7 linked regions of the Homo sapiens genome follow. The protein of the gene in region 3 interacts with the protein of the main gene of each other region in a pairwise test. Each region holds a gene or a part of one and is shown on either strand. Other genes may lie near its edges.

Region 1 (3,171 bases), on a different chromosome or scaffold from region 3:
ATCTTCATATAATAAAGGTATTGGCCCATTATGTTTTCTGTAATTAGCTAACAGCATTCTTAATAGAAGAGTTCAAAAGAGAGACGACTATATTCTTAATGTGGATTGAGTTTTCTGGGCTGCCGCTGAAATGTCTCATGTAGAAGACACACAAACATACACATATTCCTGCGAAAATACTTTCAATTTGGTTTCTTCCTACTACAATGTAGGCTCCACAAAGGCAGGAATGTATCTCAAAGGCTGAACTGTACCCACACATAGAAGGCACTTAATAAATACTTACTAAATGAAAAACAAGACTCATAAGACTTAATACTATTGCTGCTGTAAAATCCTATCATTCAAGGAATTTCAAAACGATAACCTGAGTGGATTTAGGGTACCTAAACTCTTATTTTTCTAAATTACAGGTAGAAGCCCTCAGCTCGTGGGGTTTAAAGAAATTCAGCCCACAAAGAGTATAATAATCTACATGTCTAGAACTATAAATAGGGCATGGTTTTTAACAGTTTTCATGACAGTACCTAAAAAGTTTCCTGGATAGGCTGTTCCTCTGGAAGCAGCAGGCTTCCCTCTCTATAGCTCTCTTTTATGTAGGAGATTTTGTGTGTCTCTCTCCAGCCCTGTGTATGCCTTTCTGAGTCTTCTTGGTATCTATCTCACTGTTGCTCTTCCTCTATTAGCTCTTTCTTCCATTCCTCTGCTATTTTTTCCCACCTTCTCAATTTACTTAGTGATGAAACTTAAGTACAACATGCCTTTTAAATGTATTTCTCATTATTTGCACTCTATCATTTGTAGATTAAAAACATTAAAATTATGTTTTTAATGTAACACAGGGATCATACAGAACATTTTGTTTTTTGCTTTTCCCAAACCCCACTTCTGCTATTTTTAAGTAGCTACTGATTGATTTCTCTCTGTAGGCCAGAGGTCCTCTATATAAAAAAGGTTCCCCACTCCCATTCTAATATACTAACCCAGAGAGACAGCACCTACCCCAAGATTCACTAAAGCTCTACTTGCTAGACCTTCAATTTCAAGTACACAGCTCTCTATCCTGTCACCAAAGAAAAGAAGCCTACTTAGAGCTCATAAGTCAAGGTCCCCAGCACTGGATATTCTTTACAGATGTGTAGCCACTGGCCTAAACCAGTCAACATCCGTGGGCTCTAGTGCACTCGGAGTCCACTGCAAAAATTACTTCTTTGAAATGCCTAGGTTTCCTCACCTAGGAAGGAAGAGCCAATAACCAATTGTGCACTTTTTTGAAAGTAACCCAGTAGATTCTTGGCTGGCAGAAGAATCCAGTATCCAAGATAAAATACTATCTGAAGTTGTTTTTCAATTATGTTTCAACATTCACTTACTGTCTTCTTCTGTTGAGTGGGTTCCTTCAGAAATGTAGATTTCCAACTGGAAAGTGGGAAAAAAAGTAAAAGAAAAAACATTAATGCATTCTAAGATAAGAGAGTGAAGTGGAATGTACAGTAAATTCAAACATCTAGGGATGAGTGCCCAAATCCTGTTTCTTTTTTTTTTTTTTTGAGATGGAGTCTCACCCTGTTGCCCAGGCTGGAGTGCAGTGGCATGATCTCGGCTCACTGCAACCTCCGCCTCCTGGGTTCAAGCAATTCTCCTACCTCAGCCTCCCAATAGCTGGAATTACAGGCAGACGCCACCACACCCAGCTAAGTTTTGTATTATTATTTTTTTTTTTTAGTAGAGATGGGGTTTCGCCATGTTGGCCAGACTGGTCTCAAACTCCTGACCTCAGGTGATCCGCCTCGGCTTCCCAAAGTGTTGGGATTACAGGCGTGAGCCACTGCGCCCAGCGCCCCCCAAATCCTGTTTCTAACATCAGAGACATAGGGACAAATCCCCCACATCCTTCTCTAAAAAAAAAAAGGACTGAAATGAGTAGGATTTTTTATTTTGTTCACCTGGAAAAGGCCTGCAGGTGGTATTTCCATTAATTTTTTTATGAATACACAAAAATATCATTTTACACAAATGAGATCTCATATGTGTGGTTTTACTTAAGAATATCTCTTTTCTGCACTCTACTTCTTCCCAACTCGGTATCTAAACTTCCTCCTGCCCTGCTACTGACTCAGGAAATCTACAATAACAATCTAGTGTGGTTTCTTCCATATTCTTCTCTTTACCCACATAATCTTACACAGATTTTACACACACACACACCCACATATCAGGGTTGGAAGTTTCTTCACATTGCTTGTTTTACAAAAATGGGATCACAATATAGTTTTCAGCATCCTTCTTTTCTCATTCATTATTATCATGCTAAATTTATTCTCAAGTATAATACTGGTTAAGCTATCCCTCCTGGCCCTGCTGCACCTATAGACATGAGCTACCCTCCAAGACCCAGAGCTTTTAAGACAACCTACAAAATTATTGCAAATCCTGTGGTAAAGAGAGTATGCTGTAATAAAGACGTCTACTTTCCAGAGAACACTGGAACATATGAACTAATTTTTATTTACTTATTTACTACGGAGATAAACATTTCTCATGAGTGAGAAAAATCATAACTTATTATAGTTAAAAGGGACCTTAAAGGTCATCTAGTCCAATCTTTTTTTTTTTTTTTTTTTTGAGACAGGTCTTACTCTGTCGCCTAGGCTGGAGTGCAGTGGCGCGATCATGTCTCACTACAGCCTCGACTTCCTGGGCTCAGGTGATCCTCCCACCTCAGCTCCCACACTCCCACCCCTCTCCTCCCTCGTCTCTATTTTTTTGTAGAGACCGCGTATCGCCATATTGCCCAAGCTGGTCTTGAATTCCTGAGGTTAAGTGATCCGCCCATCTAGGCCTCCCAAAGTACAGAGATTATAGGCGTGAGCCACTGCACCTGGCCCCAATTTTTTTTAAAAAACAAAACAAGCCGGGCGTGGTGGCTCATGCCTGTAATCCCAGCAATTTGGGAGGCCGAGGCAGGCGGATCACGAGGTCAGGAGATCGAGACCATCCTGGCTAACACAGTAAAACCCCAACTCTACTAAAAATACAAAAAATTAGCCGGGCGTGTATTACCAGCTACTCAGGAGGCTGAGGCAGGAGAATCCCTTGAACCCGGGAGGTGGAGGTTACAGTGAGCTGAGACTGCGCCACTGCACTCCAGCCTGGGTGACAGAGCGAGAC
Region 2 (4,284 bases), on a different chromosome or scaffold from region 3:
GCAACACGGCCACGGAAGTCTCGCCAGCTGTTACTCTGGATCTCACTTACATGGTGTCTACACAACCACGGTACCCAGGATTCTCTCTCTGCATTCCAGGCCACCAGGCTACATTCTACCATCCTCACTCTTAAACCCAAGCAAATATTCCCATCTGACTTCTCAGGGTCTTAAGGTGTATTGTTCTGTGACCTGACCTAAAGAGAGAACCTGGTTTACTCGGATCATGATGGAATACAGAATTTACACTCGAATTCCATTTCTTCATTCATAATCTGTTCCAGGCTTCCCTCTTGAACCAGGTTTCTCTATCTTGTATTCAATCACTTAACAAAAATCCATTCAGAAAGAGCATGATAGGCACTGAGAGAATGTAAAAATGAGTAAGTTCCTACCTGTGCAGAGATTATAATTTAGCAGAGGAAATAGGATGGTTACATAAATCAGTAAAATTGGATTAGAGAGTTTTAAACGCAACTACAGGTTCTGAAAAAAAAAAATAAAGTTGCTATGGAAGCACCTGGTGGGGAAAACATTTGTGCCTGGGAAGACGAGAGAGAACGCAGGCACCTGGGCCTGCAGGACCTGGCCTGGACCCTGGAGCTTTAACTCCGTCCCAGTTCTGCTCCGTGCGGCTCCATCTTCTCATCTGTGCAATGCCAGTGTCAGAGGAGAGCATCTCCACAGTCACCCACATTGGCAATTTTACAGCTGGAAGGAAAGGCAGCATTTGTGATGAGCCTTCAAGAATCATTAGGAAGCTGGCACATGGATGGTGGGAGAGCGTCCCAGGGCACACGTCAGCAGCTGCTGAGATCAGCCCTGGAAAGACAGGCTGGAGCCAAGGCAGGAAGAGGCTTGAACACTCAACCCGCGGGCTCACAGGTAACTTGGGCAACGAGCGTGGCTGGAGGTCTCTGAATAGAGAAGTGTTAACAGACACCGACAGGCTTAACACACAAGCTTCCCAAGAAAGTTAACAAAAAAAAAGGTGTGCATTGATTCCAGCTTCAGCGCATTTCCGTTTCAGTGAATGTTTGAACTTGAGGAGAGAGTCCCTTCATGCAGACATCTGAGTATTTCTGTGGAGGGAACACTTCCTACCACCCAAATGGGGACATGAGGAAGCGCTGCTGCCTCCCTGGCAGGCCCCCTTTCATTCAGAGGATATGGGCAGACCTCACTGAAGAGGCTGTAGCAGGGGTCGAGCAGGTGGTGCAGACATCAGAGAGTTCACTCTAGAATGCTGGAAACTTGCAGAGGAGGCTGCAGACCAGTCAGCGACGGAGGGTGCACAGAGGGGACTCCTGCAACCCACCAGATCACCAGCCAGGTGACACACCCTGGAGTCTGAGACACACTATGAAAAAGCAGGAGGCCGGGCGCGGTGGCTCACGCCTGTAATCCCAGCACCTTGGGAGGCCGAGGCGGGCGGATCATGAGATCAGGAGATCAACACCATCCTGGCTAACACAGTGAAACCCCGTCTCTACTAAAAATACAAACAATTATCAGGGTGTGGCGGCGGGCGCCTGTAGTCCCAGCTACTCGGGAGGCTGAGGCAGGAGAATGGCGTGAACCCAGGAGGCGGAGCTTGCAGTGAGCTGAGATTGCACCACTACACTCCAGCCTGGGCGACAAAGTGAGACTCCATCTCAAAAAAAAAAAAAAAAGAAAAACAAGAAAAACCGGGCGGGTCCCCTCTGCATGGCTCGCAGGAGGCAGTCAAGCTTGCTGCATTCTGCACTCCTCTGCCCTCCAGAGGACCTTAACACACCATGCATCAACAATAAACATGCCCTGCTCCACAGAATTACCTGAAAGCAGTTCTTGGGAAACCTAAAAAGTATTCCCAGGAACACAATGTTGTAAGAGATGTGCACAGTCCTTGGACAGACACAAAAGCCCGTTCAATCAATAAAGAGACTCTGACAACATCCACTTTCAGGACTTGGAACCCTTCCCTTTTGCTCCCACAGGCTCCCATAGGCAGAAGCCCCCAGAGCCTGCACGGCCATATCCAGCACATGCACGGGGCTAATGTCTAGTTCGCTGGCCCCAGTCAACTATGGGTCACTCGGAAGACATGGGAGCAAGGTGACTGACTGTAAAAACAATGGTCGCTATGGGTGGTTCCCCTGATCTTTCCCTGAACTCACTCTCCCACCAGGTAGAACTGGAGGAGGAGGAAAGGAAATGGAGGGAACACAGATAGGGAAAGACGCTCCAAAACAAAACAGTGAAAAGGAAAATGCACTGATGGGACCTTCCAGGAGATGCCAGTAATGAAAGCGGCTGTATTACACACGGAAATCTGGGTCCAAACAGCTCAGAGACCACCAGCCACCCTAAAAAGGCCAATGGTAAGGCAGCTGGGGAGCTCGGCCCTGTGTGCTGGTCCTAAGTTCCCTGTCCACCCCAGGCTGTTTCTTGCTGTTCCCAGGCCCAGAATGTGACCTTGTCCCTCTTAATTTGCCTAGCTAACTCTGACCCGTCCCTCCCATCCCAGACCAACAGCATCGCCCCAGCAGGCAGCCTCCCTGCCACCCGGGGCTGATCCAGGCACCCTCCTGTGGGTCCCACTGCTCTCTGCCCTGACCTCCCATGCTGCCCTGACCCCACGGTTCAATCTGTTAATGTTTGAGCTTCCCGCTCCCTAGACTACAGCCTCCTCAAGGTCATGGGATCTATCCTTATCTGCAGGCCTCTGGGTTCAAAGCCAGGCTTCAAAATTGACGACGTGTGTGCGATGTTGGACAACATCCCTGCTCTCTGCTTCACTCTGCTCCTCTGTCAGCTAGGGATAGCAACATACGCCTGTGCTGCAGGGCTGTGTGAGAACTGCATCCACGATGCAAGCAAAGCCCTGAAGATCAGGCAAATCCATAATGAGTATCAACCACCTCCTCCACCTCTAGTGCCAAACACACCTGAGATGATAAAATACTGGTTGACACACTGCATGCCACCAAGGAGCTTGCTTTTGTCTGGAACACTGCATCCAGCTTATAAGCCTGCTCCTTAGAGAAAGCCTGCCTTCCAGTTCTACGGAACATCCAGGAAGTAAGCACCTTTAAATTCAGGTCTTGGGTTATTTGTGGAGTGAAGCAAGGTGAAGGCTCCTATCAGCAATGAGCCACCCTCCTCAAAGCTTCATTTCTCACCATTTCACTTTGGAAAAAATCCACTCTTCTGAAAGTTAAAATATTTTCTCTTGGGAAACAAACAAACCCTTACGAATGGTTGTACTTGGTGAGTCGTCCTGTAATATTTATTCTCCTGGAAAAAAAATATGATCCAACAGTACATTTTTATTTCTGGATCTTGGAAAATATTTACACCAACACCTCAGTTTTATCCTCAAAAAACTGGAGCCATCCAGGGAGGTTAAGACGCTGGCCCAGGGCCAGACAGCTGGGTCAGGAAATTGTAATAAGCTCTATCCTTCAGCCCCACTACCCAGCAGGTATGTGAGCAGTGGCTTCAATTTAATTTCTTCATCTAACTAAGAAAGGGTATTCATGTGTTTCAGTAATGCAGAAACAACGGAGAAAGGAGGCTAGTCTTGGAAATGATTACTTCTTAAAGAAAAGAAAGGCACCTCCAACTTCATTCTTCGATCTCAATGTTAGAAAATTCCCCAGAGAAAACACGGAGAGTCCCTCTTCCTTAGAAGCACTCCATTCCATTCCCCGCCTCTGGGCTGCCTCTGAGATCCCACATCCTGTGAAGCCAGGGGTTCCTTGCTCTAAGAGAGTCTGAGGGCTCAATATCATCCTGAATGGTTCCAGACCACCCAACGTGCAGGGCAGCGAGCACGGCTTCATCCTCTTCTATTGCAAGTGAGGTATGGGAAAAAAGGGACAGCAGACAGAACCAGAAAAGCTGATGCCAGGGCTGGACCAGCCACAGCTTTTCATGTGGCCTGGGCTACCTGACCCCTCCTTTCCAAGCTACGAGGTTCCCATGGTTACAACAAGGGTTCATAGGCCAGGTGGGTGCTGGCCCACCTGGTTCTGTGATTGTCAGTCTCCAAGGGCAGGCTTCCTTCCCATCTCTACCCCCAGAGGGAAAGGCTTCCAGGAGGGAGAAATGTGAACAAAAGTAGGCAGTGGGGCCACGTGGTGGACCACAGGGGAAAGAATGTTCTCAGAGGCAGGCAACGTAGCTTGTAGCTCCCAACCCTGCCGCCGCCTGCCAGAGTGGCACTTCTACCCCTGAACCTCAGCAGCTTCAGCCAAACAGTGTGAGGTCCCTTCAAAGTCCCAAACCACACTGAATCCC
Region 3 (4,284 bases):
TTCCTCAGCAGAAATCTTTAAATTCACTCTTATTCTTTTTTCTCTCCCTTGGACATCCTTTTTGGGTGTGTGGGCCTGCCCTCTTTCTCTGGTTTCTGGTACTGTAAAAAATAGAACAGGTTGGGTGCAGTGGCTCATGCCTGTAATCCAAATATTTTTGGAGGCCGAGGTGGGAGGATCGCTCGAGCCTGGGAGTTTGAGACCAGCTTGGGCAACACAGTGAGACTCCATCTCTACAGAAAAAAAAAAAAATCAAAAAATTAGCCAGGCATGGTGGTGCATGCCTGTGGTCCTAGCTATTGTGCAGGCTGAAATGGGGGGCTCCTTTGAGCCTAAGAGGTAAAGGTTAGAGTGAGTTGTGATCACGCTATTGCACTCTAGCCTGGGTGACAGAGTGAGATCCTGTCTCAAAATAAATAAATAAAAATAGAACATAGTCTTCAGACCAGTTCTGTCACTTACTTGCTATGAGACCTTATGCAAGTGAGTCTCTGTTATTTTCTATGTGACCTTGAGCAAGTAAGTCATTCACCCTGTACCATAACAGAAACAGCATAGTACCTGCCTCTCAAGACTGTTCCAGAGATCTTTGAGGTGAGAAAATCCTCAATACATGTTAATTTTCTTCCTTTTAACTACCGAAATTGACTACTTGGAGCCCAACCACCACACCTGATAAGATACTACCAACCTTGTCAATCTTGCCACTTGATCAAGAGAGGAGTGACAACCACTCCTCTGAGGCAGACACCTTAGACACTGACTTTATTACATCTTCAGGAAGAATAATGATAACTAAAGCAGATACAGGCTTTTTCTTTTTCTTATTTTCTTTCTTTTTTTTTGGAGACAGAGTCTTGCTCTGTCTCCCAGGCTGAGGCTGGAGTGCAGTGGTATGATCATAACTCACTGCAGCCTCGAACTCCTGGGTTCAAGCGATCCTCTTGCCTCAGCTTCCCGAGTATCTGGGACTACAAGTGTGCACCACCATGCTTGGTTAATTTTTAAATTTTTTTGTAGAGACGAGGTCTCACTATGTTGCCTGGGTTGGTCTCGAACTCCTGGACTCCAGGGATCCTCCTGCCCTGGCCTCCCAAAATGCTGGCATTACAGGAGTGAGCCACCATGCCTGGCCTAGACTTTGATGCATTCCCAGCATTCCCACATACCCCATCACGGCATCTTTCATTAATCCCCTTCCATCACCCCAGCATCAACTCAGCTGCGTTGGGCTGAAAAATTCTACCTCCTTGGTGACTTTCAAATTGGTATGTGAAATAGTAGCCTATTTCAGGTTCCCATTGGCTTTCATCTGAATGCCAAAACTCTTAGCTGATCTCTTTGCCTATAGTTTCTCTTGCTCTCACAGTTATTCCAGATTATCTTCCTGAAACAGACACGATCATGCTACTCTTCTGCTCTCTGCTTACTAACCTTTACTGGCTATTCATTTCCTTCAGCATCAGGCCTAATCTCTCCAGTTTCCTTCCCAGCTTCATCTCCTGTACCACGGCTTCCTTAGGCTGCCTGTGTTTTTGCAGGTAATGATGTTACTCCCAGGCCTTGGACTCTCCCATCTCCTGGACTTTGTTCAGGCTCTTCTTTGTGCATGGAGGACCCTTCCTCTACCAATCCATCTGACAAAAATCCTACCTTTCCTCCAAAATTCAACTTTGAACCTTATCTTTCACAAGAAACCCAGAGCTTCTCCAAGACAGGAATTTTGTTTTCCACACGTATTAATGTGAGTTAATACACATGAGGTACTTAAAATAGTTATTGGCACATAATGAATGCTATCTACTTTTTTTCCTACAGCTTGGAGTAAAGATACATGATCTCTCTGATTCTTAGTTTCTTCATCTGTAAAACGAGATAATAAAATTATCCACCTATGAGGACTGCAAGAACATTAAATGAGATAATATACATTAAGTGCTGAACAGAGTGCTGTTTCACAACAAATGGTCAATACATGGTATCAAGGACCATGCTTGCATTATTTTCATCATTTCCATATTTACTCCTTTCACCCTCCCCTTTCCAGTTCCCAACCCTGTCCCCATGGCTTTTAACATAGAGATTTCATATGAGGTAGGCTCATCAATGTTTACTGAATTATTAAATTACCTGTCACTCCTACAAGTTCTTATATTTATAGTTTATTTGGATCCAACAAGTAATCACAAAGCCACAGAAATTCCTCTTTGACAAACTACTTTTGTTTTTTTTTTGTTTTGTTTTTTTGTTTTTTTTTTTTAAATTTCTGAAGGCATTGAGCCAACTGACTAGATTAGGCAAGCATTGCCAACATTCAGATTTAGGTCATTGCCCCGAAACATGAAACATAATGTTTTCACCCATAAGAATTATAGGTTTTCACCTTACACTGGAAATAACTCGTTGCCTATATCCTTACACACACATGCACACCTTATAACTTCAGATAGCCTTTCCTTGTTTGGAATACGGTTTCTCTTCCTATTAACTTTCACCTGCAACTTGGAGAATTGTGAAATTGAACTTCTTCCTTTACTATAATTCAATGTAATGAACATTTATCATAAGCTATCTCTCTGTGTTTGGCACTGTGCTAAAGGCCAAACTTACTGTCTGATAGGGAGAGAGACAGACATATGAGGTACTAATTACACCATCAAACAAAATGAACCAGAACCAGAAAGAAGCACGAGTAATGTCTTGGGAGTGTGCAGAAGAGGGAGTCCTCAATTCTGACCGGGAGATGAGCAAAGATATCACAAGGAAGTGTCATTTGAGCTAAACCATAAAGCCTGAGAGAATTTTGATAAGCAGAAAGTTGGAAAGAGAGTAATAAAAATAAGGGAACAGTATCATCAAAGGCACAGAAATGTGAATTACATGGTGAGTTGAGGGAATGGGAAGTAGACAAAGGTGGTCGGGCCCGTTTCCCATACTTTAGCCATTTGTGTCCCATCTTCTGGCTCTTTCCACAGCTGTGTACCACCTATGCTATTATTACTTAACATACTTTTCCTTCAAATTAAGTCATCTCTGTAGCCTAAATTAATGTATTTTAACAGGAAATTTTATATCGCTACCATGAATTTGCTTTTATTCTCTATGCATTAAAATAACTTTTTATCCATACACCACCTTGGATCATCTAATGTCCCTACAGGGCATGGGAACACTAGGCTACGAAACACTTTGAGAAATACTAGGCTGCAGCATAAGGAATGTGAGTACGGCTACTGAGAGATGAGGCTAGGAAGACACGTGGGGCTAGGCCAGTGAGGGCCTTGAATACCAAGCCAATGTGTTCAGACTTTATTCTGTCAGCAGTTGGAAAATATTGATGGTTTTGGAGGAAGCAAACAACATTATGTGATTGTGCTTTTTAAAAATTTCTGGCAGAGGTGTGGGAAATGGATTGGAGGGGAAGAAACCCATAGCTGAAGGGCAGACAAAAGGCTGCAGTCCAGACTAGAAAAAAATCAAGTCCTGGACCATAGCAGTAGCAATGGGGACAGAGGCAGGAAGACGGATAGGAGAAGTTTTTTGTTTGTTTGTTTGTTTGTTTGTTTGTTTGTTTGGAAAGGGAAAGAAGTCAAAGATGGCCTAAAAATATTGAACCTATGACATTTATCTTGAGGCCTGAAAGATGAATAGGAACTAGCCAGACACAGAGCTGAAGAGAGAGTTTTCCAGGCAAAGGGGACCGCAGGCAGAGAAGCCCTGAAGCTAGAGAGCACTTGAAGGAGCTGAAAAAAATAGCATGGTGGAATGCAAAGAACAAGGTGGTGGCCAGAGACTAGATCACCAAGATCTCCTAACCCTTCTAAGCCAGGGTTAGGAGACTGGACTTGATCCTAAGGGCCACAGGAAACCATATTTATTGTTGAATTGTTAAATTACCATATACTCCCACAGGTTCTTATATTTATAGTTAACTTAGATACAGTAAGTAATCATAAAGCCACAGATATGCCTCTTTGATAAACCAGCCATGTCCTTGGCTACATGCTATAGATTGATAGAGACAGACTTGCATTTAATGCACTGGCTGCATCATGGCTCAAATGGAAGCAGGCAGCCTATTTAGAAGACACTGGTAGTCATCCAGGTGAGAGATAATGGTGGCTTTGACCAAGTGGTAGCATGGAGGTGGGAAATAGAATAATTTGAAAGATATCTGGAAGGCAGAACTGGCAAGAATTGGTAAATGACTAAAGGGAAGTAACAGCTAGAGCTTAGTGGTTAAGGGTACAGTCTCTGGGGTAAGACAATCTTGGTTTTCAGCCC
Region 4 (4,284 bases), on a different chromosome or scaffold from region 3:
ACCAGGCCCAGGTCCTCAATGAGGTAGGGGGCAGATTCTGGCTCTTTCTTATGAAAGGAGGCACCAGAATGTGGACACATAGTGGTTGGGTTGGAATTAGAAAGCACTGCGAGGGTGGCTCCCGGAATTCTCTCTTTGCCCTCTAATTTAGGGCATCTTGGTCTTCATTATTTTTTGGAGAATGATTATTTGTATCTTCCACAGGGCCCATCATTGTACTGGCACCCAGTAGGCACCGATTCAGAAAACGAAGTGTTAGAGTGAATGTTCATGTGTTCTCTAAAATCCTCTTCATTGAGGAGCCTGAAGTCATTGGACTATTTTGCTCTTACTTTTCTTGTGGTAGATCTATTTAGTATTTATGATAAAGATTCCACAGAAGCTTTTTTTTTTTTTTTTTTTTGAGACAGGGTCTCCCTCTGTCGCCCAGGCTGGAGTGCAGTGGCACGATCTTGGCTCACTGCAACCTCCACCTCCTGGGTTCAAGTGATTGTCCCACCTCGCCTCCCGAGTAGCTGGGATTACAGGCACATGCCACCACACCCGGCTAATTTTTGTATTTTTAGTAGAGGCAGGGCTTCACCATATTGGTCAGGCTAATCTCGAACTCCTGACCTCAGGTGATCCACCCGCCTTGACCTCCCAAAGTGCTATGATTACAGATGTGAGCCACTGTGCCTGGCCTTGATTTTTTTTTTTTTTTTTTTTTTTTGAGACAAAGGTCTCACTCTGTCACCCGGCTTCAGTGCGATGGTGCAGTCATGGCTCACTGCAGCCTCAAAATCCTGGGCTCGAGTGATCCTCCTGCCTCAGCCTTCCAAGTAGCTGTATGGAAGTGATGGTGTAGTGGTGCCCCTGCCATGGAGGGATGGGGGCGGGATGGGGTTGTTTCTATCATTTATTAGCATATGTGTTAGAATAATGGTTGGTATTAGTGTCAATGAAGACACCACCAGGCGTTATAATTAGATTTGTATAATACTTTACAGTTTACAAGCATTTGTATCTGTAACACTTCATTTACTCCTGAGAACAACCTTGTCAGATAGGTGCCATTGTGTCTCCATTTAAGAAATGAGGAAACTGGCTGGGCCCGGTGGCTCATGCCTGTAATCCCAGCACTTTGGGAGGCCGAGGCAGGCAGATCACTTGAGGTCAGGGGTTCGAGACCAGCCTGACCAACATGGAAAAACCCCATCTCTACTAAAAATACAAAATTAGCTGGGCGTGTTGGCAGGTGTCTGTAATCCCAGCTACTCGGGAGGCTGAGGCAGGAGAATTGCTTGAACCTGGGAGGTGGAGGTTGCAGTGAGCTGAGATCGTGCCATTGCACTCCAGCCTGGGCAACAAGAGCAAAACTCTGTCTCAAAAGGAATGAAAGAAAGAAATGAGGAAACTGAGGCTGAGGGCTGTTAGAGACTTTACTAAGGCTATGTAGCTAATATGTTGCAACCTAATCCTTTATTTAGCATTTTAGAAAAGGAAGGATTTATTTAAGCACGCTAGCCAAAGTCTGATTCATTTCAGTTAGCAAAGGAGATGAGAACTGGAGGGCTTATTCTCCAGAAACAGATATTATGAGAATACAGCCTGGGAGGATTACAAACTTGATTTATTTATTTCTCACAAATACAATTCCAGCCTCTTAACTGGATTGCTGACTCACTGATGTGCTCTCCCCTGTGGGCAATAGGTATAGTTTTCTTGTTGAGTTGCCTGCCAACTGTTTGGAGAAGGGGCAGAAATTAAGGTATAATAGCATGAAACCAGGAACACTAATCTGAGTGATTTGAAGGGAAACTCACCAGGGAGACATTGTAAGCTCCCGCATGGGTTAGTGAGGGCTTTGAGTATCAAATGCCATTTGCATTCTTCCATGTAAGTCAGACGTCTGGCAGCAAATGTACTGTTTAAATGCAAGTCCTGGGGCTGGTCTAAGGTGAAATTGTAACTATTGATAGAACACTGTTAGTGACTTCAAGACTGAGACAATCTGTAGCCCGAGGTGGGCTGTGGATGAGAGAGAAAGACTATAAACCAGATTCTGTCTCTGCAGTGCTTTGGAGAGCTGATTGACAGTAATGTAGAAGTAACCCTTGAGTGGGAATTGTAGCAGGAGGATGTGTGGCAGAGTGGGAGTCAAACTAAACCCTAGGAGCAAGAGCTATTAATGAGAGGAGCCACAGGGAGGTACTGTGCAGGTGAGGTAAGACCAAGGCATGGCCCAGAATCACAGTCAATGCAAATACTGTTAACAACCTGCGAGGGTGTTGGCGGACAAGGACCTTATAAAGGGTTTGGAGCAGGAAAGTTGCAAAAGGTAGGAAACAGTCTTTAAACAATGGAATATTTTGATGGCTTTAAAAAATTAGTAGAATTTATTAGCAACTTCTATTTGGAAGAAAGAGAAGGAACATTGACTAGTACATTAAGCTTTGAGTGGGGATAGTGGAGATAATAGAGCAGGGGTGGGGCAGCCTTCATGCAAAAAGAGATTAATTAGAATCTGCCACTCGAATACTCCTTTAACCAGAGTTCTGTTGTGCAGATGGCTAAGTATCAAGTTCCACAGAGGTCTGGGGACATCGTTATGATCCAGTCTGAACATACAGGAGCTATAGATGTTCTTTCAGCTGATTTGGAATCTGCAGATCTTCTGGGGGACCACAGGAAAGGTGAGACCTTTGGGAGTAAAGGAGGTGGTTTGTTTCCAGTAGATACTCAAAGAAAGGCAGGCAGACAGACAAATGGAAGGAAAGAAAATGACTTGTGAAAGGAAGTCAAGCCAGTAGAAAGAATGTCTGACTGTGCCAGCCTCTCTTAGCAAAATGCCCGGGGTACTCATGTTTCCTCATGGTTTCTCAGTGCTAAGCTGCTTGTCCTTTCAGTCTCCCCACCTCTGATGGCTCCTCCATGCATCTGGACCTTTGCCAAGGTGAAGGAATTCAAAAGCAAGCTGGGCAAAGAGAAGAACAGCCGTCTGGTGGTGAAGCGTGGTGAGGTGGTGACCATCCGGGTACCTACTCATCCAGAGGGGAAGCGTGTCTGCTGGGAGTTTGCGACCGATGACTATGACATTGGCTTTGGAGTTTATTTTGACTGGACCCCTGTAACTAGCACTGACATAACTGTGCAGGTCAGTGATTCCAGTGACGATGAGGATGAAGAAGAGGAAGAGGAGGAAGAGATTGAAGGTAAATTTAATTTTAACCTAATTTGCAGTTTTCTGGCTTAATCTGATTTCTGGTGACCATTTTGTGGGTTGTACCAGTCCTCCTCTTCCTTTGAATGCAGTTGAGAAACTCAGCATTACAAGCTAAGCTGAGTGGTACAGGCCAAAGAGAACATTCTGGTGGGGTTGATACTGCTGCCTTAATTGAAAGAAAGCCTCTTTTTCCTTATCGGTACCTCATTGTTTTCCCAACACCTTCCTGGGGGCAGGGATGGGGCAGGAGCAGAGAGAGGGTGAGTCATGCGGCAGTTTAGAGGGATGGTCATTCAGGTCGCATGTAAGCCAGAGATTATTTTACATCTCTCTCTTAGTTTGTAGATATTTATTCTTGGCCTGGAACCAAAGTGAGTGATTACAGTTTGCTAAAGGTATCCATTCTCTCCTTATCCCAAACTCTCATAGCTGGCTATTGGTTACTTCTTTACTTCATGCCCAGACAAGTTTTAAAAGGGTCTCCGGGCTCCATTCCGGCTGTTATTTGTAGTGTCTACACACTACACAAAGGATGGCCCAGAGGCATTTTTCAGATAACGTAAGAGTAGGTCCTAAGCATTAGTCTTATTCCTCTTATTCCTTGATTTTCTTATATAATCTTAAAGTCAGTCCTTTAACGTGCTTCTTCATAGAACAGCAAGCGGGCAGGGAAACCTACAGGTATCTGGGAAAGCGGAGAACCTTGTATCTTATTTGCTGCTTTTCAGGAATCCTAGGGTCACTTTATAGCACGTTTATCTGCAATTCCTATCTTCGTTAGCTAGTCCTTTCACCTACTAAATGATAGAATATCGGGATCTTTTCTTCTAAATATCTCTTTCTCCCTCTCAGAAATGTCCAGACACTTCTGAAGCTAGGAAGGCTCCTCTCAGGCTAAATCATTTTCTCAGTGGAGACATTATTGGCATTTGGGATGGGACATTGTTTGTTGTGTAGGTACTATCCTGATTTTAGCACTCCTGGACCCTTGGGTACTAAATGCAGATATCACCTAATAGTCACTGTGATGACCAAAAGATCACCAGACATTTCCAAATGTCTGTAGGAGGGCAATAATC
Region 5 (3,958 bases), on a different chromosome or scaffold from region 3:
AGGAGGGGAAAGGGGAGAGGTGCCTTAGGACAGCTGGGAGAAAAAGCCTCTTGCTGCCTGTCCTAGACTGGGCTTCTCCAAGTCAGTGGGATATCAGGATCACTTGGGAAGTCTATTTAAAAATAGATCCCTTGATCTCACTTCTAAAGATTTTAACATGGATGTTTGAGTTGGACCGGAAATCTGTATTTTAATAGGCAACTGCCACAGACAGTGGTCCAGAGATTATATTTTGAGAATTACTGATGCGAAGAGCAAAAAACTCAAGAAATGAAAAGCATGACATATGTTAGGCTTTCTTGCCCCTTCTGCTAAAAACTATGATGAACATGCCTTGGAGGTTTAGATAGTAAAGCTCAGGGATCTCTTTGGTGAGTAGACGAGTTAAAGCCTGTGATGTTTCTGGCATTGTACTTGTCATGTTACGTAAGTATGCACTCAGTGATCGCAGCCCCTTAGAATATAAACCTATAGAAGAAGGAATTTTGCCTAGTTTTCATCACTGTATGCTCTGCATTTTGAAGAGTGACTGACACATTAGAGGCACCAAAATGTTTGTTGATTGAATAAATTAATTCTAGTTTCTAGACCTTTAAACATAAAGACTCAAAGTTTGTGCTCTGGAGTTGAATGAAGCTGTGTTTGTGTGACTTGCTTGCAACATGAACATGGATTAGTTTTTTAACTTATCTGAAGTTCAGTTTCTTTATCTGTAACATGGAGAAAACAATTGGACTTTATAGGGCTGAGACGAATAAAGAAAATAATGCTCTTAAAGTACTCAGGGCTGGGCACGGTGGCTCACGCCTGTAATCCCAGCACTTTGAGAGGCTGAGGCAGGAGGATTGCTTGAGGTCAAGAGTTCAAGACAAGCCTGGGCAACATAATAAGACCTTGTCTCTACTAGAAATCAAAAACATTAGCCAGGCGTGTTGGAACACACCTGTAGTACCAGCTACTCAGGAGGCTGAAGTGGGAGAATTGCTTGAGCTCAGAAAGTTGAGGCTGCAGTGAGCCATGATCATGCCACTGCACTCCATCTTGAGCAACAGAGCAAGACCCTACCTCAAAAATAAATAAATAAAATAAAAAGTACTCAGTACATTGTAAGTACTCAATAAATGTTATATGCCACTGTTATTATAACTACTACTATTATTATTATCATTGCCCTAATTCTTGTTATGAGGTCACATTGGTGTCATATTTCCAAACCCTCTTTTCATGCCATCTAGGCAGATTTCTGTATATTATTATGTTGATTTACATATTCTGTTTTGTTTTCTCCCAGACCCACTGGAATGTGACAACTCCCTAAATATTCTAAGTGTAGTGTCTGGAGAAAAGAGATGAGACCTGCTAGTGTCCGTCACTGTTCAAGACATTTTTTGGGGGGGTGCTGTGGGGGACGGAGTCTCGCTCTGTCGCCCAGGCTGGAGCGCAATGGCATGATCTGGGCTCACTGCAACCTCCACCTCCCAGGTTCAAGCAATTCTTCTGCCTTAGCCTCCTGAATAGCTGGGACTATAGGCACCCGCCACCATGCCTGGCTAATTTTTTGTATTTTTAGTAGAGACAGGGTTTCACCGTGTTAGCCAGGATGATCTCGGTCTCCTGACCTCGTGATCCACCCGCCTCTGCCTCCCAAAGTGCTGGGATTACAGGCGTGAGCCACCACGCCAGGCCAAGACATTTTATTTAATATAGTAACACATTGATTCCACAAAAGAACACTGAGGGATAGATGTTAATTTTTCCATTTACACGTGAGGAATTTAAACTGAAAGGTGAAATAATTGGTTCAGCATTATGCTCAAAACCAAAGCGTTGTCTGCATTTTTATTTAGCAGTTCTACTTCCGCAGTCTCTTAGTGGAACATTTTAATAATATTCTGCATTATAAAGTACAAAATTAGTTCCTATTCTCATTTCCTTTTTAATGTCGGGTTTCTTTTTGTAAAGTCTTTAGTATCTCAACTCTTCAGTTCTTACACCTCCTCCCTCAGATCTTTTGTTTCAAAAACTGACTACTTCAGGTTATTCTACTGTAAAGAAGGCTAAGCCTTCTTTTCCATTTGAAAAGGAAATAGATTTAATGGGAAAGAATATATAGTAGTGACTCAGATTTAAGATGCTTAATCTTATTTAACATGAACATGACTATACATGATAACTTAAAAGTATTTCTAAAGAGGGTATTCTACAAATGCACTTAATATTAATTTTCTAATTATTTGCATATATCTTTCTTTTAGGATCCTTCCTGAGCGTTTCCTGGCAGTTTTAAAACGAAAAATCAGTGTTAAGTTTGATGCAGTTATTGGATATAAAATGAAAGCGCAATAAGCACCTAGTTTTCTGAAAACTGATTTACCAGGTTTAGGTTGATGTCATCTAATAGTGCCAGAATTTTAATGTTTGAACTTCTGTTTTTTCTAATTATCCCCATTTCTTCAATATCATTTTTGAGGCTTTGGCAGTCTTCATTTACTACCACTTGTTCTTTAGCCAAAAGCTGATTACATATGATATAAACAGAGAAATACCTTTAGAGGTGACTTTAAGGAAAATGAAGAAAAAGAACCAAAATGACTTTATTAAAATAATTTCCAAGATTATTTGTGGCTCACCTGAAGGCTTTGCAAAATTTGTACCATAACCGTTTATTTAACATATATTTTTATTTTTGATTGCACTTAAATTTTGTATAATTTGTGTTTCTTTTTCTGTTCTACATAAAATCAGAAACTTCAAGCTCTCTAAATAAAATGAAGGACTATATCTAGTGGTATTTCACAATGAATATCATGAACTCTCAATGGGTAGGTTTCATCCTACCCATTGCCACTCTGTTTCCTGAGAGATACCTCACATTCCAATGCCAAACATTTCTGCACAGGGAAGCTAGAGGTGGATACACGTGTTGCAAGTATAAAAGCATCACTGGGATTTAAGGAGAATTGAGAGAATGTACCCACAAATGGCAGCAATAATAAATGGATCACACTTAAACTTTTGGTGTTTCCATCTTTTTGTCTTAAACAGAACATGACAACCTTCAAATTAAAGGAAAATAAATTGTGCAATCTTTTTTTAAAAACTGGAAATTTCTTGGATGTGAGGCTCATTGAGATGGGACTATAAGATCAGATCTATAAATTTAAAAATTTAGTAGGTTTGTTAGGTTTCTTCTACGAAAGAAAAATATTTTCAAGACTATATCAAACACGGCTGGTCACAGTGGCTCACGCCTGCAATCCCAGCACTTTGAGAGGTCGAGGTGGGTGGATCACAAGGTCAGGAGTTTGAGACCAGCCTGGCCAACATGGTGAAACTCCATCTCTACTAAAAATACAAAAATTAGCTGGGCGTAGGCCAGGCGCAGTGGCTCATGCCTATAGTCCCAGCACTTTGAGAGGCCAAGGCGGGCGGATGATTTGTATGCATATTAAAATTTGAGAAGCACTTCTTTGGAGCAGTAGCATCCTGGCCAACATGGTGAAACCCCATTTCTACTAAAAATCCACAAACATTAGCTGGGTGTGGTGGCGGGTGCCTGTAGTCCCAGCTACTTGAGAGGCTGAGGCAGGAGAATCACTTGAACCCAGGAGGTTGAGGTTGCAGCGAGCCGAAATGGTGCCACTGCACTCCAGCCCGGAGACAGAGGGAGACTCCGTCTCAAAAAAAAAAAAAAAAAAAAAAATTAGCTGGGTGTGGTGGTGGGCACTTGTAATCTCAGCTACTCAGGAGGTTGGGCCAGGAGAATCATTTGAACCCCGGAGGCGGAGGTTGTAGTGAGCCAAGATTGTGCCACTGCACTCCAGTTTGGGCAATAGAGCAAGACTCCATCTCAAAAATAAATAAATAAAAATAAAAAAGGCTATGTCAAACACATACACATGGAGAACTTTAATCCTTTTATCAGACAGTTCATATTCAGAAAACACATAAGGCAGAA
Region 6 (4,284 bases), on a different chromosome or scaffold from region 3:
GGGAGCCCTTGGTCCCACGCCTACTGAGCTGCAATGGACTTGAGAATGCAGTGAATTGTGTCTGTGTGGATTGGGCAGGGCCATCCACCAGGGCCTCTATGGGGCATGGAGAATGTCTTCCTCAGGCATTTGCTTCCCCTCACTCCCCAGTCCCCCACTCCCCCTTAGCACACATGCACAGCCCCCACCAGGAACAGGGTCTCTTTGTGGGCCTGATCTGCCCAGCTCCTCTGGAAGGCTCCTCAATAAACAAACCTTCCTTTATGGGGTGGTAGGTTTACTGGAGACGGGAAAAACAGCAGAGGAGGGGTGGAAGGCCCAACAGGAAGAGGTGGCTGCTGCTCACAGTTGGGGGTTTGGAAGCACTGGAGATGGCCCTAGGGGGCCTTTTGTGGGGCCAGGGCAGTCCCACTCCTTTTATATGTAAGAATCCTAGGAGGGCAGTGGTCGAGACTGGCAGCAGACAGGGATTAGGGTAGGGATGTGACAAGGCGAGGAAGGGAGGTGGCAGAGCTGCTCACCTTGGAGATAGCCAGAGGGACAGGGAACCTGGGGACGGGGGATGGTGCCAGCTGTGGCCCTGGCTCCTGGGGCCTCCAGGAAGGGAAGAAGGAACCAGGGCAGAGCCCACAGCCAGGAGCTCACCTTCTCCAGGTTGGTGTTGTCCAGCCAGAGGGTCTCCAGGTATCTGCCAAAGGACTGGAAGGCATTGTCCGGGATGCTTTTCAGGGGGTTGTGGGACAGCTTCAGCTCCTCCACCACCCGTAGCTTGCTCAGGGCAGCTGAGGGGTAGCTGGACAGCTGGTTCCTGTCCACGTGGAATTTGGCGAGGTTCTCCACGTCGTCCAGGGCCCCGGGCTGCAGGGAGCTCAACGCGTTTTCCGACAGGTAGAGCCAGCGCAGGTCCTTGGCTCCCTGGAAGGCGCCTGCGCGCAGCTCACGGATCTTGTTGTTGTTGAGCTGCAAGATGAAGAGGTTGACCAGCGGGGAGAGCAACCCCCGGGGCAGCTCAGTGACCTTGTTGTGGTCCAGGTAGAGGTAGGTCAGCTCGGTCAGGTCGTCGAAGGCACCTGCGCGCAGCACGCGGATGTCGTTATGGGACAGGTACAAGTAGATAAGTTGCTTGAGGCCGCGGAAGGCACCGGCGGCCACCTCGCGGATCTGGCAGTGCTGCAGGTGCAATGACACGAGGTTCGGCATGGCCCGGAACGAATTGGCAGCCAGCACCGGGAAGTTGTTGCGCTGTAGGTTGAGCAGCTTGGTCTTCTCTGACACCTTGGGGATCTTCTGCAGCCCCACCTTGTCGCAGATGACGTGCTGCAGGTCGCTGTGGCAGTGGCAGTTCTGGGGGCAGGCGGCCAGCGCCGGCAGCAGACCAGCCAGGAGGCCGAGGCTGAGCAAGAGCATTGGGCGGACCATGGCTGGGACGCCTGGGGCCGGGGCTGGGGGCAGCAGCGGCGGCGGGGCGCGGGCAGCGGCGAGTCCTAGGCGCTCGGGTCTGCCGCCCTCTTTATACGGTGGCCCTGACCGCAGCCGGCAGCCGAGCCAGCTCCTACGTGGAGCATCGAGGCCACTGGGCTTAACTCGCTCGCGCCCAGAGATGCGCCCCCGCCCTCCACGGGGAAGGGGGCGGGGCCGTTCCCCCAGCCGGCTACCGTGCATGAGGGGGTGGGACCGTGGCCCCCGAGCCCCGAGCCCTGAGCCCCGGCTGTAGCCCCCCGCTCTCCTATGGTGCTCCTCTGCCTACCGCCTTTCCCGGGGCTTTTCTGGGAAGGGGGAATAGTTATGTCTGGAGCCCCGAGTTTACATCGGAGAGAGGGAGGCGTTCCCTCAACTTATTTGTTTGCTCAGGTTTGAGCCTCCACGCCGCGCCATCCACACACGCTCGGCCGGGTGCCCTGGATGCGAGGCGGGAGGAAGCGGGGCCGGACAGCTGGATGCGTCTCCCTGCGGTGGGCCAGCTGCCTGCGCTTTAAAGGGGCGCTTGTGCGGCGCCTGCCGAGCGTGAGAGCCGCCCCGGCGTCGGTCTCCCACTTCAGACTCGACGCGCCGAAGCTGGCCCTGGGTAGACCCGAGCTCCTTCCCCACCCTCGGGCGCGCCCCCACCCCTCTCTTCCAACCCCGCTTGCGTTTCTGTCGCCGGCGCCCTCATCCCCTTTTTCCACCGCTGAAGGCTAAGCAGAGAAGTGGGAAGTGGGGGAGAGTGGCCCACAGGAATGGCAAACACACCTGGAAACCACAGGCCACAAGCACAGTCGCACCATCCCCCCTCCTTCATCGCCCCGAAATATCTCCATCCCTCATCCCCAACCCTAGTGGTCAGGACCCGCCCCTGAGGGGTCTCAGGGTGGCGGCTGAGTGGCGCCGAGGTGTACTTGGCAGATGCCACATTCGGGCGGTGGCCCCAGGACTGTGAGGAGGGGTGCGGGAGGGGGTGGGGCAGGTCGAGGGACCAGCCCTGGACGGCTCTGGCTGCCAGACCCTAAGTTCTGTGGGCAGTCCCGCCCCAGCCCGCCAGATTTCTGTGTGCCCACTTGCCAGCCACGATGTCCGGATTCCTGTGGAAAGGGGAGGGTGAGCAGGCAGGGTCACAGCTCTGGCCTCAGGGTGAGCTCCAAGCTGCCTGGCACAGGATATTGTCTGTGATGAGGGGTGGAAGGAGAAACCAGAACCCACATTGAACCAAACCCCAGCCGTGCCAGAGCCAGAGCAGCTGATATGGGGGAAGCTTGGTGCAGGGAGGAGGATGGATGAGATCTGGTATCCGTTGATTAAAGGGGACCTAGGATACGGGGTAACTAGCCTCTCTTCCCTTACCCAGTACCCTCGTGTTGGGGCCTGGTTTCCAGGGCCTGCCCTTTTCCCAAACCTCTCTGCCCCTTGCCTCTAGGATAGGAGGGTCATACTTGGCCTAGACCATTCCTTGATGGTATTTAGGCTTCTCCAAGGCTGGCTTCTGGTTTTTCTGTTGCTCAGGCTTTCCAACCACTGGAAATGGGGGAGGTGGGGTGGGGGTACCACTGGTTTTTAAAATCACTGCTTAGGTTGTTTTTTTATTTTGATGGAAATAAATTCACGGGAAACTCTCCAGAGCTTGGGGGACGCCTGCCCCAAGGCCAGGCACTTGTTCAGGGTTTGCAGAATGCGGGGGTGGGGTTGTGTCTGTGCCACTCCTAGCTGGGCCAAGGCAGGCTGGCTTTCTCATCAAGTTTATGGGGCCTTCAGCTTGGAAGGGAGGAGCCGGGGATGTGGCCTGAAATCAGGAAGGTGGGGTTAAGGCAGCCAGGGGATGGGGGGAGAAGTGTGGGGTGTTGGTAATACCGGAGCCACAGGCACAGACAGGTGGCTGCTCCAGGGAAACGGGGCACTGAGAGAGCTCCAGCTGGAAGAGAATGGTGTCCCTGCTCTCAATTTTCTTTCAGATCTGGGGCCCTGCAGAGATCTAGTCTGCTCACTCCCAGCACCTCTGCCTCCTGACCCCAGGCCCCTACCAATGATGTCTCTGTTTCCACCATTCGGCTGCCCTCCACTTTCCCTTTTCTTTTATGAATTCCTTCCCATTTCCTCAGATAGCTCACCTGATCCCTCTGCACGTGCTGAGCCCTCTTCAAACACCCTTTCTGGACCCTCTAGGTTGCTTATGGAACCACAGAGAACAGTCCCGTGACATTCGCGCACTTCCCTGAGGACACTGTGGAGCAGAAGGCAGAAAGCGTGGGCAGAATTATGCCTCACACGGAGGTGAGCCCCTGACCAAGACTCCAAAGTCCCACCTCCCGTCACCCAGCTGGGGTGCACCCAGCTGGGACATCGGTTGCTTTCAGTGAGAGAGTCAAATGGCTCACTCAGGATGCCTAGAGCCCCCCAGCAGCAGGGGTGTGCTAGGCCTGGCCCGGAGTGTTCTCTGTGGGCTAAGCATGAAAGGGGAAGAGCTGGAACAGTGGCTGTGAGCGGCTGCCAGCTGAACTTCTCCGCGGCCTCCCTTCCTGTCTGAGGTGTGTTTTTGCCAAGCCCACTGTCTGTTTCAGGGCAGCCAGGGTAGCCTCAAAGAGGAGCCAGAGCACAGAGAGTTTTCCTACACAGCTTCTTTTCCTCCAGTGGTGCTCGCCTCTCGCTTTAGCAGAGTTCTTCTTCTTGCTTGGCGTAAACACTTCATTTCCCAAGCAGCCTATCCCTTTGGGGCGGTCCCTTTGCCCCTCAAAGGTTGCCCCAGAGTGCACCTGAATCTCAAATGCCCAGCCATGCCTCCTTTCCTGCTCCAACACTGGGGCTGTGCCAGCTGGC
Region 7 (4,284 bases), on a different chromosome or scaffold from region 3:
GTAGAGAAGGCAGTAATAGATACCCATGTTGAGTAAGTGACAAGATAACCTGGTCAGATTTGCTTTGCATCTTGGATAGTATTCCAGTCCCCAACTCTGGTGTTCTCATGTTCTTTACTTTCTGGTTCCTCTTGATATTATTTAAAATAAATTATGACACTCAGAGCCTGAATAATATGTCCTTCCAGCTCTAATATGTATCCTACTTGTCCAATTTCCTTTTCCATTTGGAATCTTATATATGTTAGTCCCAGGACCCTGTCTAGGGAGAGGCCCTCCAGAAAGGTCAACTGAGAAGGAAGCTGATAGGGCATCTCCTTAGATTTATGGACATTTACATTAACAATATATGGCTCTGACTTTTATTCCAGTGGGAAGATGGTTGGGAGGTGAGGGCTTGGCAAGATCTTAGGAAAACCACACTCAGTGTGTCCCTCCTCCTCCCCACAGCCCTACCCTCCATCTACACTTCTTTCATTATTTCTATAAAGATGGAATATGGCTTAAATATGCATGAAGAGCAGCCTATATCAAAGGTTCCAGAGCGTAGCCATCAAGAACAATAGGTAGGCATGTCATAAGGATAAGAGCTGTTAGAGGTGAGAAGAGTCCCTCAAAGAAAATTGTGAACTAGGTAATAGGAACTCCCCCACCCCCGTGAACACTTAAATACACACTTGAGCTTGTAAGAAATTAACACTCAATTTAAGTGTGGCATAGTGGCTCATGCCTATAATTCCAGCATTTAGGGAGGCCGAGGAGGGAGGATTGCTTGAAGCCAGGAGTTTGAGACCAGCCTGGGCAACAAAGTAAGACCCCTGTCTCTACACACAAACAAATGAACAAACAAACCAAAAACCACACACAAAAATTAGCCAGGTGTGGTGGTGTGCACCAGGAGTCCCAGCTACTTGGGAGGCTGAGGCAGGAGGATGGCTTGAGCCCAGAAGGTTGAGGTTACAGTGAGCTATGTTAGCGCCACTCCACTAAAAAAAAAGGTGCCCACGGACAAGAAACAAATGCAAAGTAGTGGGGGAACTCAAGCTGAAGCTTCATAGAGGGGTTCTGGAGGGGAGTGGGGTGTTAGTCTTGGCACTGTGGAGGCTTTAATGCCCAAGGAAGGGACCAGAATTGAGGTATTAGACCTGGGATGGGAGGAGCATTGAAACTGAGCAACCAATAAAAGGATCATGGGATGAGGGGAGGGGAACTTTCTAATTATATCATCAAATATGAAATCATGGTGGAAACAGTATTTAGAATATAAAAATAATAAAATACATATTTAAAAAACATGGAGAGGGGACTTTGGATTAGGCAATGGTTTCTTAGACATCTAAAGCACGAACAGCCAAAGAAAAAGGCAAGTCAGACTTCATTAATATTAAAAACTTGTGATTCAAAGGACACCATCAAGAAAGTGAAAAGCCAACAAGAGAATGGGAGGAAATATTTGCAAGTCATATATCTGATAAGGGTCTAATATTCAGAATATATATGAAGAACTCTTTTTTTTTTTTTTTGAGATGGAGTCTTGCTCTGTCGCCCAGGCTGGAGTGCAGTGGCGCAGTCTCGGCTCACTGCAAGCTCCGCCTCCTGGGTTCACGCTATTCTTCTGTCTCAGCCTCCCGAGTAGCTGGGACTACAGGCGCCTGCCACCACGCCCGGCTAATTTTTTTTGTATTTTTAGTAGAGATGGGGTTTCACCGTGTTAGCCAGGATAGTCTCGATCTCCTGACCTCGTGATCCACCCGCCTGGGCCTCCCAAAGTGCTGGGATTACAGGCGTGAGCCACCGCGCCCGGCCAATATATGAAGAACTCTTATAATGCAATAATAAAAAACAAGTAAAAAATGGGCCAAGGATTTGAATGAGATATTTTCCCAAAGAAGATATACAAATGGCTAATGAGCACATGAAAAGATGCTCAACATCATTACTTATTAGGAAAATGCAAATCAAAACCACTTTGAGATACCACTTTATATCTACTAGCATGGCTATAATTAAAAAGCTGGACAATAACAAGTGTTGGAGGGTATATGGAAAATTAGGAATCCTCATACACTGGTGGTGGGAAGTAAAATGGTGCTTTGGAAAATAGTTTGGCAGTTTCTAGAAAATTTAAACACAGAGTCACCATATAACCCAGCAATTCTACTCTTAGGTATATATCCCAAGGGAACAGAAAGCATGTTCACACAAAAACTTGCCTGTGAGCTTCCATAGACATTATTCATACTAGGGAACAAGTAGAAACAACCCATGTGTCCATCAGCTGAATGAATGGATGAGCAAAATGTATTATATCCATACAATGGGATATTATTCAATTACAAAAACAAATGAAGTATTGTGACATGCTATCACATGAATGAACCTTGAAAATATGCTAAGTGAAAGAAGTATAGATACAAAAGGTCACATATTGAATGCTTCCATTTATGTGAAATCCATAGAGACAGAAAGATTAGTGGTTGTCAAGGGTTGGAGCAGGAGAGAGAAATGGGGACTCCTGCTAAATGGGATGGAGTTCCTTTTTGGGGTATTGAAAATGTTCTGAAATTAGATAATGGTGATAGGTTCACAGGCTTGGAATTATGCTAAAAACCAAGGCATCGTACAATTTAAAGAATGGATTTTATGGTATGTGAATTATATCTCAATAAATAGTAATTAAAAACCATGCAGGGAGCAAATAAAGCAATTATTAAAGGGCAATTTATAGCCTAACATATTTATATTGAAAAAGAAGATTAAAAATTAATGAGTTAAGCACCTTAAGAGGTTAGAATGAGAAAAACCCAATAAAAAGAAAAGGAAGAAATTTTTTAAGTTTTGTAAATTGTTAGAATCAGTAAAACCAAAAATAGGGTTTTTTTTTTTTCTTTTTTTTTTTAAAGGCCAATTAAATAGGCACCTCTGGCAAGGCAGACCAGGGAAAAGAGAGATGGCACAAATTGATGAGGTTAGTGTGAAAAAGGGAACATAACTACAGAGAAAATGAAGATTTTAAAAAGTCATTAAGGACATTTTCATACTTTCATTTTTAACTTAAATGGACAATTTCATGGGAAATATAACCTACAAAACCAAGTCAATATGAAGCCGAAAACCTGATTCAACTTAGAATCATTTAAGACATTTAATAAGCAGTTCAAAACCTATCTTCTAGAACCCTACATGATTTATACTGTCTTACGGTAGTGTTCTACTAAACATGCAAAGTGCAGATTGTTGCAATATTATGCAAATCTGTCCAGATAATATAAAAAGGGGAAACATGCCCTAATTTATTGTATAAAGTTAATATGATCTTGGAACGAAAGCTGGAGAATGATATTACGAGAAAAGAAAATTGGGGACCACTCTTATTTATGAACATAGAAACAAAAATAATAAAATATTAGCAAATAAGTGTTTTAAAAAATACAATGAACAAGATGAGTAAGAATGATTTAACATTAGATAATCTATTAATACATATTACTATATTATTAAAGAAATGGTACAATTTTGTAGCTATAGAAAAGTCAACAAAATTTAATGTTCTTACATAATAAAAATTTAGTACACTAGCAACGGAATGAAAATTCCTTAACTTGAAAGGAAATCTATTAGAAAAAGTATATTAAACGTTAAACTTAATGGTAAATAGAGGGATTTTCTTTAACAAGAGGAATAAAGCAAAGATAGTCATTATTATTACCTGTTTTATAAATTATACTATATATAGGCCCTAGTAAGCACAGCAAAACAAGAAATAGAAAAAGTATAGGGATGGGAAAAGAAGAAATGAAACTTTCTTGTTTTGCCAATGATAGGATTGTCCACAGAAGAAATCTAAGTAATTTTCCATTATAACTGGTAAGTAAGAAAATGTATGAGGTTCTAAATACATTAGCATCAGTCAGTCAATCAATTGGGTCTGATATACTAGAAACAAATATATATATATTTTAAAAGACACCATTTATGATATTCACAAAACTAGAAAATACTTATACATCTAAAGGACATGTAAGATCTTTATGAAAGAAATTACAAACCTTTATAGAAAGGTATTAAAAAAGGCCTAAGTAAAAGAAAAGCTATATCATATTTATAGATGGGAAGATTCAATATTATAAAGATAGTCTCTCAATTTATATATAAATGTAATGCACATTTAATAAAACTTCCAGACTTATAATTTTTTTTGTAGACTTGAAAGGTGATACTGAAACTCAAGTGAAAGAGTAAAAGGCTAAGAATAGCTAACATGATTTTTTTTTTTTTTGAGAC

The links.
Region 1: the proteins of DGAT2L6 (region 3) and CIAO2A interact in binary tests that used the Homo sapiens proteins (3 or more experiments, as listed by UniProt).
Region 2: the proteins of DGAT2L6 (region 3) and RNF144A interact in binary tests that used the Homo sapiens proteins (3 or more experiments, as listed by UniProt).
Region 4: the proteins of DGAT2L6 (region 3) and TMED8 interact in binary tests that used the Homo sapiens proteins (3 or more experiments, as listed by UniProt).
Region 5: the proteins of DGAT2L6 (region 3) and HSD17B11 interact in binary tests that used the Homo sapiens proteins (3 or more experiments, as listed by UniProt).
Region 6: the proteins of DGAT2L6 (region 3) and ACSF2 interact in binary tests that used the Homo sapiens proteins (3 or more experiments, as listed by UniProt).
Region 7: the proteins of DGAT2L6 (region 3) and SLC10A1 interact in binary tests that used the Homo sapiens proteins (3 or more experiments, as listed by UniProt).

The regions. Positions count from the first base shown.
Region 1 is NC_000015.10:64,074,119-64,077,289, forward strand, and holds part of CIAO2A (cytosolic iron-sulfur assembly component 2A), read right to left. Parts: intron 1,420-3,171; coding exon 1,374-1,419; exon of another isoform or gene 1-1,373. UniProt on the Homo sapiens protein: Component of the cytosolic iron-sulfur protein assembly (CIA) complex, a multiprotein complex that mediates the incorporation of iron-sulfur cluster into extramitochondrial Fe/S proteins.
Region 2 is NC_000002.12:6,920,016-6,924,299, reverse strand, and holds part of RNF144A (E3 ubiquitin-protein ligase RNF144A), read right to left. Parts: intron 1-4,284. UniProt on the Homo sapiens protein: E3 ubiquitin-protein ligase which accepts ubiquitin from E2 ubiquitin-conjugating enzymes UBE2L3 and UBE2L6 in the form of a thioester and then directly transfers the ubiquitin to targeted substrates.
Region 3 is NC_000023.11:70,183,631-70,187,914, forward strand, and holds part of DGAT2L6 (diacylglycerol O-acyltransferase 2-like protein 6), read left to right. Parts: intron 1-4,284. UniProt on the Homo sapiens protein: Diglyceride acyltransferase that uses fatty acyl-CoA as substrate. Particularly active with oleate as a substrate. Has no wax synthase activity to produce wax esters.
Region 4 is NC_000014.9:77,342,088-77,346,371, reverse strand, and holds part of TMED8 (protein TMED8), read left to right. Parts: coding exon 1-23; intron 24-2,533; coding exon of another isoform or gene 2,534-2,548; coding exon 2,549-2,675; intron 2,676-2,888; coding exon 2,889-3,194; intron 3,195-4,284.
Region 5 is NC_000004.12:87,335,664-87,339,621, reverse strand, and holds the end of HSD17B11 (estradiol 17-beta-dehydrogenase 11 precursor), read left to right. Parts: intron 1-2,255; coding exon 2,256-2,346; 3' UTR 2,347-3,107; downstream 3,108-3,958. UniProt on the Homo sapiens protein: Can convert androstan-3-alpha,17-beta-diol (3-alpha-diol) to androsterone in vitro, suggesting that it may participate in androgen metabolism during steroidogenesis.
Region 6 is NC_000017.11:50,467,395-50,471,678, forward strand, and holds part of ACSF2 (medium-chain acyl-CoA ligase ACSF2, mitochondrial isoform 2 precursor), read left to right. Parts: intron 1-645; coding exon of another isoform or gene 646-1,419; exon of another isoform or gene 1,420-1,486; intron 1,487-3,633; coding exon 3,634-3,741; intron 3,742-4,284. Other genes in the region: CHAD (chondroadherin precursor), read right to left, coding at 646-1,419. UniProt on the Homo sapiens protein: Acyl-CoA synthases catalyze the initial reaction in fatty acid metabolism, by forming a thioester with CoA. Has some preference toward medium-chain substrates. Plays a role in adipocyte differentiation.
Region 7 is NC_000014.9:69,787,040-69,791,323, forward strand, and holds part of SLC10A1 (hepatic sodium/bile acid cotransporter), read right to left. Parts: intron 1-4,284. UniProt on the Homo sapiens protein: As a major transporter of conjugated bile salts from plasma into the hepatocyte, it plays a key role in the enterohepatic circulation of bile salts necessary for the solubilization and absorption of dietary fat and fat-soluble vitamins.